Homo sapiens: one gene and its partners. The protein of the gene in region 2 interacts with the protein of the main gene of each other region in a biochemical or structural test. Each region holds a gene or a part of one and is shown on either strand. Other genes may lie near its edges. The genes, in order: PSD4, USP9X and ALDH1A3.

Region 1 (3,654 bases), on a different chromosome or scaffold from region 2:
CCAAAATAGAAGTAACTAAATCTAACTAAAATGAGAACATACTTTCATAGTAAATAATGAAAAGGTTTACTTGGAGCTTTATCTTGGTAAATGTACAAATAAGTTTATTTAAATCTTATAGTAAACACAATGCCTAAAATTTAATTTTCCCAGCACAAGTTTTCTGGCTGGATAAGACATCTTGCATTCATCCTTGATTTTCACAGTAAGATCATAAAGGCCATTAAAAACAGTAACAGGCTGGGTGCAGTGGCTCATGCCTATAATCCCAGCACTTTGGGAGGCCGAGGTGGGAGGATTGCTTGAGCTCAAGAGTTGGAGACCAGCCTTGTGGTCTGCCTGGGCAACATGGTGAGACCACATCTCCATAAAAAATAAAAATAAGTAAAAATTAGCTGGGTGTAGTGATACACGCCTGTGGTCCCAGTTACTTGGGAGGCTGAAGTGGGAAGATCACTTGAGCCTGGGAGGCTGAGGCTTCAGTGATTCATGATTGTACCTCACACTCCAGGCTGGGCAACAGTGTGAGATCCTGTCTCAAAAAAATAATAATAATAACAGCTGTTTTGAAATAGAATTCACATACCGCCCAATTCACTCATTTAAAGTGTACAATTTACAGCCAACTGATCTTCAACAAAGCAAACAAAAACATAAAGTGGGGAAAGGACACACTTTTCAAAAAATGGTGTTGGGATAATTGGCTAGCCACAAGGAGGACACACTTTTTCAACAAATGGTGTTGGGATAATTGGCTAACCACAAGAAGGAGAATGACACTGGATCCTCATCTCTCACCTTACACAAAAAACAACTCGAGATGTATTAAGGACTTAAATCTAAGACCAGGAACTATAAAAATTCTAGAAGATAACATTGGAAAAACCCTTCTAGACATTGGCTTAGGTAAGGATTTCATGACCAAGAACCAAAAGCAAATGCAATAAAAACAAAGATAAATTGCCAGGACTTAATTAAACTGAAGAGCTTTTGCATGACAAAAGGAACAGTCAGCAGAGTAAATAGAAAACCCACAGAGTGGGAAAAAATCTCCACAATCTATACATCTGACAAAGGACTAATATCCAGAATCTACAATGAACTCAAACAAATCAACAAGAAAAAAACAAATAATCCCATCAAGAAGTGGGCTAAGGACATGAATAGACAATTCTCAAAAGAAGATATACAAATGGCCAACAAATATATGAAAAAATGCTCAACATCACTAATGATGAGGGAAATGCAAATCAAAACCACACTGCAATAACACCTGACTCCTGCAAGAATGTCCATAATCAAAAAATCAAAAAATAGACGTTGGCATGGATGAGGTCAATAGGGAACGCTTCTACACTGCTGGTGGGAATATAAACTCATACAATCACTATGGAAAACAGTGTGGAGATTCCTTAAAGAACTAAAAGTAGAACTGCCATTTGATCCAGCAATCCCACTACTGGGTATCTACCCAGAGGAAAATAAGTCATTATAAGAAAAATATACTTGCATACACATGCTTATGCTTATAGCAGCACAATTTGCAATCACAAAAGCATGGAACCAACCCACATGCCGATCAATCAATGAGTGCATAAAGAAACTGTGGTGTGTATGTGTGTGTGTATATATATATATATACTATTATATATTCAATTATATATAATTGAATCACATATATGATTGAATATGCATATATATTATTGAATATATATATATATGATTCAATACTACTTAGCCATAAAAAGGAATGAATTAATGGCACTCACAGCAACCTGGATGAGATTGGAAACTATTATTCTAAGTGAAGTAACTCAGGAATGGAAACGCAAACATCCTATGTTCTCACTCATAAGTGGGAACTAAGCTATGAGGATGCAAAGGCATAAGAATGACACAGTGGACTTTGGAGACTCAGGGGTAAAGGGTGAAAGGCGGTTAAAGGATAAAAGACTACAAATAGGGTGCAGTGTATACTGCTCTGGTGATGGGTGCACCAAAACCTCACAAATCACCATTCAAGAACTTATTCATGCAACCAAACACTGCTTGTTCCCCAATAACCTATGGAAATAAAAATTATAAAAAAGAAAGAAAAGAAAATTCAAGTTAAAAAGATAAAATAGGCAGGGCGTGGTGGCTCACGCCTATAATCCCAGCACTTTAGGAGGCCAAGGCGGGCAGATCACGAGGTCAGGAGATCAAGACCACGGGGAAACCCCGTCTCTACTAAAAATACAAAAAATTAGCCGGGCGCAGTGGCGGGCGCCTGTAGTCCCAGCTACTAGGGAGGCTGAGGCAGGAGAATGGCCTGAACTTGGGAGGCAGAGTTTGCAGTGAGCCGAGATCACGCCAGTGCATTCCAGCCTGGGCCACAGAGTGAGACTCCATCTCAAAAAAATAAATAAATAAAATAAAATAAAATAATAAAGTGAGGTCAGGCACAGCGGCTCAGGCCTATAATCCCAGCACTTTGACAGACTGAGGCGAGTGGATTCGAGAGTTCAAGACAAGTCTGATCAAGAGTTCGAGACCAGCCTGGACAACATGGTGAAGCCCCCTCTCTACTAAAAGTACAAAAATTAGCCAGGCATGGTGGCACACGCCTGTAATCCCAGCTACTCGGAAGGCTAAGGCAGGAAAGTCACTTGAACCCGGGAGGCAGAGGTTGCAGTGAGCCAAGATCGCAACATTGCACTTCAGCCTGGGCAGCAAGAGCAAAACTCTGTCCCAAAACAAAACAAAAAAATAAAGGGTACAATTTTATGATAATTTATATTTGCATACTTTTTTTTTTCAAAGTGCTCCCTCATCTAAGTATTATTTTAGTAACAACACTAATTGACTAGGTCATTTTTAAAAGCATATTTTAGGGCTTCGTCAGTTGATTTTTCGAGTAATTCTCTTTAGATGTGACAATTTATTCTTTATTTTTATTTTCTCCTCTTCCATTGTTCACTGGACAATCTCTTTTGGTTCCCGATTTGTCAGTGGTTTTCCACGTGACTTGTGAGGTCTTTCAACATCACTTTCACAGACCTTATGAAATCATGTTTTTTGACAGGATTTGTACTTACACTTTTCTGTTAGCTTCTGTTGTGCTTCTCCTGCATTATGTAGTGTTCATGAGCCTCAAGAGGCAGTGAGAAGTCACCAGCAAAGACCCTGACCCGTCTGTGTTAGGTGGAGAGGGTGCTTAAGTGAAACCTAATGTTATTCGTCTGTTTATCAGGGAACGTTTTCATATTATGATGACTCCTGCTTACTGGTTCAACTTCCTGTGTCACTTGGATAATGAATGCTTAAATAACTAGAATACCTGATTGTGACGTTGTGGGGGAAGCAGAAGAGTCAGGTTTAGATTGGATTGAGTGACATCTGAGAGTCTTAGTGCTGGACTGGGAGGTTCTGAGTCGGCTGGGGGTCACCCGGACCTGTTCACACTGGGTCATAGGTCACCACTCAGTCTCCTTGTCATCCAGGCTGCTAGGTGGGGGAAGGGAGAGGCTGAGGACCACCTCCTGAACTACCCCAGCTGCTGCCATTACTAGAGCCCACCTAGCTTCCTGTTCTCAGCCCCCTTACAGCCTTCTAGGCTCCAGATCTAGGAGTGGAGGCTAGAGCCAGAGCTGGGAGGTGGGGAAGGGACAAGGA
Region 2 (3,654 bases):
ACATTTAAAATAGGAAATATATGGCTCAAAAAATCAGTTGAGGGAGAACTAAATAATCCTTAGGCACTTTGAAGACTTGAAATTTAAAATGTGCCACTTGTGTTCAGAAAAAGACCTCAAAATCACCATTATGTTGCTCTTGCAACAACATGCATCTTTAAATTTCTGGTTATACATTAATGCTTGAGTTAAATATAGAAAATAATTTGCACAAACAAAAATAACTCCACTTTCCCTTGCTCCTAGTCACAACGAATACCACTCTTCCTCAAATGGAGACAAAAATGACTCACAAGCCCCTCACCTGGCACAAGGGGGCTTGTAACTTCAAAGCAACCAAGGTTGGGCTCTTCCTCCAAGCAGAAAAATTCACAGCCTTTTATATGTCAAGTTTTCTCTCAACTAGGAAGTCGTTAAAGTTTTTAAGTACATTACATATTTTGTTAAGGAGCAGCAGGAAATATATAAATCTCCTCTCAGATGGTGAGATGGTACACCTAACTCATCCAAATAAAGTTAACCTATTTCACTCGTTTAAAGAGCTTGGAATTGAGGAACTTTTAAATTAAAAAAACTATCAACTGGGGCCAGGCGCGGTGGCTCACACCTGCAATCCCAGCACTTTGGGAGGCCGAGGCGGCCAGATCACCTGAGGTCAGGAGTTCAAGACCAGCCTGGCCAACGTGGTGAAACCCTGTCTCTACAAAAATACAAAAATTAGCTGGGCGTGGTGGTGGGCACCTCTAATCCCAGCTACTCGGGAGGCTGAGGCGGAAGAATCGCTTGAACCCAGGAGGCGACGTTGCAGTGAGCCAAGATTGTGCCACTGCACTCCAGCCTGGGTGACAGAGCAAGACTCCATCTCAAAGAAGAAAACAACAAAAAAATAAAAACAAAACAAAAATCAGTTGGAATTGCAAACACCGTGTGTGACTTTCACTCAAAGTATCGGTGTCAAAATGTCCTACAGGAACACCTAGAAGCACAGGTTGACTATACAGTACTACAAATAAGATACCCAAAGCTTTATCTTAAATACCTGCCCCTTTTAATCACAAAATAATGCAATGCTCAATTTTGTTTCTGCTTTGTTCAGTTCCAAGTGTAGCCTTTTGACAAAACATTTCCCTATTAACTGAATTGTAAAAAATACAACCAAGCTTGTGCTCATTAAATATACATGTATATAAAAAACATACAAAAAGTACAAGATTATGTTAGGAAACTTTTACAGTGTCAACATCCTGATTTCTCAAAATCTTCAGTAGAGGGCCAAAGGTCAAATCTTTCTGTGCACAAAAACTTGATGTGACTGAAATCCTGAATCAGTGTCATGCCTAGGCATGCTATGCACAGAATGAATTTTAATATGCAGTCCTCTTTTAAAAAAAAAAAAAAAGGACAAAAAAAGTAACCAAAAAAAAAACCAAAAACACACCACAGGACAAAAAGTTCTTCTTAAATCAAATTCTATTTGTGAATTCAGCAAAATAATTTCTATAAAATAAAACAGCAAAATATTTAAATAGAATAGGGTGGGCTGTATCTGTTTGCAGGGGTATTTGGTTTTTAGACAGGTTCCAAAAAATTACACACATTCAAGTTACCAATTCTCTTTTAAATACAGTATGAACTGAGGATTTCCTTATTTTTAATCAAATGTTTATTCTGAAATTGTAATATCTCAATTATATCAACCAGTAGTTTCTTTTTTAATGAGACCCTGCTTTGAACGTTAAACGTTTTGGAATAATGGAAAAGGAGCTAGGACAATTCTTGCTTTCAAGTAAAATTGTGACTGAGCAGAAAATCAGCCAGCTATCTTGGTGCAGAGAGGTACTCCAAGTACCGTGGGGTTCTGATGACTTCCACGTCACTGGGATCCAACAGAAGGAAAGTTTTAGAAGATTCACCTAATAAACTCTACCAAAGAAACAAAACAAGCACACCAAATACAGTCTTATATTATGCTCCAGCATCTTGGCATAGCAAATTTTTGCATATTTGTTTTAAATCTTTAAAAATTCCCATTACTGATACGTAAGTGTTCTTTATTCCACCCAGAGATTGAACTGTCAAACATTATATATAAGGAACATATGTGCAACTGAAAATAGACTGTCACATTTCTCCCCTTGTTTTATATTTTAATATTCTAGGTGTAAGAAGTAAAAGCTCTGAGTAATACAGCTGTCACTTCTCGGACAACTGCTGTCATTATGGTAACTTTTTCCTCATTGGCTACACTAACTTGGTGTGAAGCCATGCTAAATGTTACAGCATAACTATAGCTTCAAAGTGATTAACCTAATATCAGAATAAAAAGGCAATGAAAAAAATCTAGAAACAGTGTTACATCACCAATTTTCCACATCAACCAAATAATTTAAAGGTTACCAGCCTTACATTGCTCATAGCAAAATTGACTCCAGTGGCAAAGAATTAACATGAAACTATTGGTGTGGCTGACATGGATGGGCTCTGTTTTGTTGCTGTTGGTTTTTTTTTTTTCTTTTTTGTAAAGGAGCTGATCCAACTGCCATGAGGCAGGCAACACTGGTTGCAGAGTGCAGTGGGTGTAACAAGAAAATTAACTTTTGTAGTTTGTGTAGATCTGTGAGTCTCATCAAGAAAAAAGTTTCTTGCTTAAGAATTAACAGTCAACATTAATATACTATATACACCTTTGCCATTTACACATTAGCATCAGGCCATTTATTACAAAACACTATACACTTTCCACTGCAGGCGGGTTATATATTGACAGCAAATTTCTGCAGATAAGACAGTGAATAAACTCTCCACTCCATGTTGATTAGGAATAGTTTTTCTAGTTTTAAATATTAGCCAGACACAGAAAAAGGTTGGACTGTAAGGCCTGGGTGCACAGTCTTGATGGAACCAGTTAATTATGTGCATTTCATTGATCCTTGGTTTGAGGTGGGGATACTTCTTCACTGCCTTCATAATTTTCTTGTGCTCGTTGGCCAGTTCTCTGAGGGTTGTTCATGTGATGTGCTGCTGGGCCTGTATATGGCTGTCCATGCACATGGTTATTCTGGGAAAGGAGAAAAGATCTGTATGTTAAAACTTTTCACATAGTAAAACAACTTCAAAATCATGGTCTGAAGTCTCTGGAAATGTATACTCTTATTCTTGGGACTTACTCTGTAAATACCCTTGGACTACTATAGTGCAAAACAAAAACAAAAACAAAAACAAAAAAAGGCTTGAAAAACGTAGTGTAAATGCAAACCCCAAAACCCTGAATAAGAGCAGTGATTGTGTAGGTCCACATAAATCTTTGGCCAAAGTGATTTTTAGTGCCAAAAATTATTTAGACTCAAGTCTGGCAAATAAAGGATTAACCCACTGTTGCTCTTGGTAAAAAATTTTCAGAGAATGATCTATGAGCATCTATTGACTCTTCCACATGCTAAATCCGATTGACTAACCATGATGTAAGATATATAGGAGCAGTAACCCTGAACTCACAATAATGCTGATTAAAAACAGAACAATGTTCAAGATGATAAAGTAACCAGGCATGATTAACATAAGAGCTTTCTCAGGGTCAAAGGAAGTTAACCTTCCTTGTGGATTTGGTTCCTTAACCTTTTAAAATGTCTGAACCCTACAGTGCTCTCATTTTTC
Region 3 (3,654 bases), on a different chromosome or scaffold from region 2:
TATCGAGGTGGAGAGCAAGGGGCGCTCTCCTGTGATGTGGTTGGAGTTTTAAAAACCGTGTTTGCCAGTAATTCTCTTGTCCCTTTCATGTTGTGGCAAAGAGCTGGATCTTATTTCTCGTGGGCTGCGAGGTGCCAGTGGCAGAAGTGATTTGCTGGGTTTGCATTCTGAGATCCTCCAAAGCTGTCTGCTATCAAAACACAGTCGTGCCAGGACAATGGGGCAGCCTGAAGATGAAGGTGGCTTTGTAGCCTCTGCTCCTAAGATGATACTGACACTTAAGGACAGGGTTCAGGGCGGGGGGTGCCCAGGGCACATCCTCTCTAGCCTGCTATTAGTCCACACGGACATTGCCGACCGATGAGCTCATGCCGGGTGAAAACAGAAATGTTTTTGAAAAAGCCAGTTTGGCAGCTTGAGGGTTGACGCTGGCTTACGTTGCAGGAAGAAACCAGAGGCTCCTCAGAGAGAAGCGCTTACCCTGGGAGGGAGCTACTCTCACCCGGGGAACATGTGGACTGGCCGGGCTGACTGGGAAGGAAGGAAGGGGAGCTCGAGTTTCTGTGTGGATGCACCCTTAGGGAAATGCACCCAAGAGTACGGCCTGAGAGTTCCTCCACCCTGAGAAACACATTCAGGGGCAACAGCAATTTCCGTGTCCTGGCTGACACCCTCCTTTAAACAGTGGCTACCCTACTGCTTGTTCCCGACATCAGAAAAACCATTTTTCCAAATCAAAGGCCAGAAAGGAGATCTCCTCCCCTACAACCGGGCCTCAAGGTTTGGAACAACTTTTAAAAACAAGAGGCTGAGATGGGCAAGGACAGGATGCAAAGGACCTCATGGCCCAACGTGGCCCTGAGATGTCCTCTGATCACTCCCTCATGACCAGAGGAGGGTCTGAGGATCCTGCTAAAAAATGGACTTACAACTGATGAATGCCTTGGCAGCTCAGCCTCATGGGGTATGCTCCATCAATATCCCCACCTAGGGTATCTAGAAATTACTGGCCAGCAGTGCATGTAGGTGAGGTTAGAAAATGGGTCTTCACATGACCTCATTATGATAACTGCTATTATTAATGATAGCTGTCATCTATTTAGTGCTTACTGCCTGCCAGGGACTCTGCCTAGAATCTTAAATAGATCATTCTTACACCACTGAGTTATCATTATCGGTGACATTTTACATGAAGAAATAAATCTCAGAGAGGTTTCACAACTTGTCCAAAGTCACACAGCTAGTAAGTGGCAGAGTGGGGATTTGAACCCAGGTCTTTCCTATTCTGAGGTTTCCTATAACCAGGCTATCCTGCCCTCACCACCGCTCCACATATGCTCGCTACTAGCCAGTTCAGGGGTGACTGAGGAATGATTTTAGGTCACATGGGAACAATTTTTTCTATGTTAAGTGGTGGCATTTATTTTGGTAAGTATTAGAAAAATAAAATTAGCACATCAAACCTGTGATTTCATGAATATTGTTTCTTAGGATGAGATTAAACTTAAGTTTAAAAGGGAGTTAAGGCTGGGTGCAGTGGCTCACATCTGTAATCCCAGCACTTTGGGAGGCCAAGGCCGGTAGATCACCTGAGGCCAGGAGTTCGAGACCAGGAGTTCAAGACCTGGCCAACATGATGAAACCCTGTCTCTGTTACAAATATAAAAATTAGCCGGGCATGGTGGCAGGCACCTGTAGTCCCAGCTACTCAGGAGGCTGAGGCAAGAGAATCATTTTAACCTGGGAGGCAGAGGCTGCAGTGAGCCGAGATCGCGCCACTGCACTCCAGCCTGGGTGACAGAGGGAGACTCTGTCTCAAAAAAATAAATAAAATAAAATAAATAAAAGGAAGTTTATACAAAAAAGAAAAAAGTTAAGTACATAAACACACAGGTGGTACCAGGATATGGCCCAGCTCATGGTCACCAATCTGTGAGTGCCCCAAGTCTGAGACCACTGATGTAGCTCAACTGCCTATAGACAACAACTTGGTCAAGAAGCTGAGCTGCAGAGGACAAAAGTCTGACTTCAAAATGAAAGGGATTCAGTCTAGAGGCATTAACACCTGCAAGTATTGCCAGAGAGCCGTGTCTCAGAGGATGGAACAGACCCACGACCACACAAAACCAGGACCGTGATCTTTTTTCCCATACCCCATGGTGGACAGGACCCTCAGTGAGGCTGGCTCATCCCCCACCGGCCCCCAAGTGCATGTACTCACGGCCAAGGTGGCGCGGTCCCTCTCCACCAGGTCAGCCAGCTGGTGCAGCAGCCGCCCACGACTCAGGGCATCCAGCCGGCGCCATGGCGAGCCCCTCTGGAAGGCAACCTGTGCAGCCTCCACAGCCTTGTCCACGTCGGGCTGAGCGACCAGAACAACAGAGAGAGACTGTCATCTTTTGACGTGACTGCAGTTTGGGTGTCATCTTTTGACGTGACTGAAGTTTGGGTGTCATCTTTTGAGGTGACTGCAGTTTGGGTGTCATCTTTTGACGTGACTGCAGTTTGGGTGTCATCTTTTGAAGTGACTGCAGTTTCGGTGTCATCTTTTGAGGTGACTGCAGTTTGGGTGTCATCTTTTGAGGTGACTGCAGTTTGGGTGTCATCTTTTGACGTGACTGCAGTTTGGGTGTCATCTTTTGAGGTGACTGCAGTTTGGGTGTCATCTTTTGACGTGACTGCAGTTTGGGACCACGGCCATCAGTTATAGAGAACAGCAGATTGTCCCGCTGGCAGACAGGCTGCAAGCAGCAGCATGTTTTTCAATCACTTGAATGGCTGGGAGCGTTCAAGTGATTTTTTTTCTTCTTTACATCTTAATATTTCTACAGTGGCCAAATACCAATGTTTGTTTCTGATTATAAAAAGCATTTAAAAATATTTCCTAAAGAGTATTTTTCTCAGGGACCCAAGTACGGAAGGACTTTCCACTGGCTGCCTCAGTGTGAACGCACACGAGCCTGCTGTTCACAGATCAGGTGGGAAGTGTCTGCCTGGCATTTGATCCCAGCTGGGAACTTGTGGTCCAAGAGTGAGAATGGGGAAATTCCTTCCTTTCTGGATTGCAGAACTGACCATCGTGGAACAGTTCGCAGACAGGGAGGAGCATGAAGGCCGTTTTTCTCCCTTCAGCCTCACCCACCCCATGGGAGCAGAACTGGATCTTTTGTGCACTGATAGAATAATCACAACGGAACCTTCTTTCTAAAAGGAAAGAAGTGAGGGCCATTTAGAGTAGTGTCACTGTCTCTTTTTCTCAGGAAAATGGGCCACATTCATCTCGAAGGCCCCTCCATGCCTCTCTCTTTCTAGGAAGGTACAGCAGGGAGTGGATGTGGGACACCAGTCAGGAGTGACTCTACCGAGTCTCTGTGTGTCCAGAGCTGGCTTGGGGGTGAGCAGAAGCTTGGCAGGGGAGATGTGGGACACTGAATTTCTTCTCCCAGGCTCTGGGGTGGAGGCCAGGACCTTTCCAGCTGCAGAGGGTGTGGTGGCCTCTGGCTCAGAACAGTCACTCAGACCAAGGGAGAAATCAAGGCCCAGGGCAAGGGTCTCGTTCTCCTCCTAGCACCTGTACGGGGCACTTGGGAGTCTCCTAGTGGAAACCCCATTCCATGTCATGGCTTCCCCCCAATGCCCTCACATTTTTCTATG

The links.
Region 1: the proteins of USP9X (region 2) and PSD4 form a complex in vitro, tested with the Homo sapiens proteins (one study listed by BioGRID).
Region 3: the proteins of USP9X (region 2) and ALDH1A3 form a complex in vitro, tested with the Homo sapiens proteins (one study listed by BioGRID).

What each region holds. Positions count from the first base shown.
Region 1 is NC_000002.12:113,187,339-113,190,992, reverse strand, and holds part of PSD4 (PH and SEC7 domain-containing protein 4), read right to left. Parts: intron 1-3,654. UniProt on the Homo sapiens protein: Guanine nucleotide exchange factor for ARF6 and ARL14/ARF7. Through ARL14 activation, controls the movement of MHC class II-containing vesicles along the actin cytoskeleton in dendritic cells. Involved in membrane recycling.
Region 2 is NC_000023.11:41,231,791-41,235,444, reverse strand, and holds part of USP9X (ubiquitin carboxyl-terminal hydrolase 9X), read right to left. Parts: intron 3,059-3,654; coding exon 2,921-3,058; 3' UTR 1-2,920.
Region 3 is NC_000015.10:100,886,280-100,889,933, reverse strand, and holds part of ALDH1A3 (retinaldehyde dehydrogenase 3), read right to left. Parts: intron 2,363-3,654; coding exon 2,222-2,362; intron 1-2,221. UniProt on the Homo sapiens protein: Catalyzes the NAD-dependent oxidation of aldehyde substrates, such as all-trans-retinal and all-trans-13,14-dihydroretinal, to their corresponding carboxylic acids, all-trans-retinoate and all-trans-13,14-dihydroretinoate, respectively.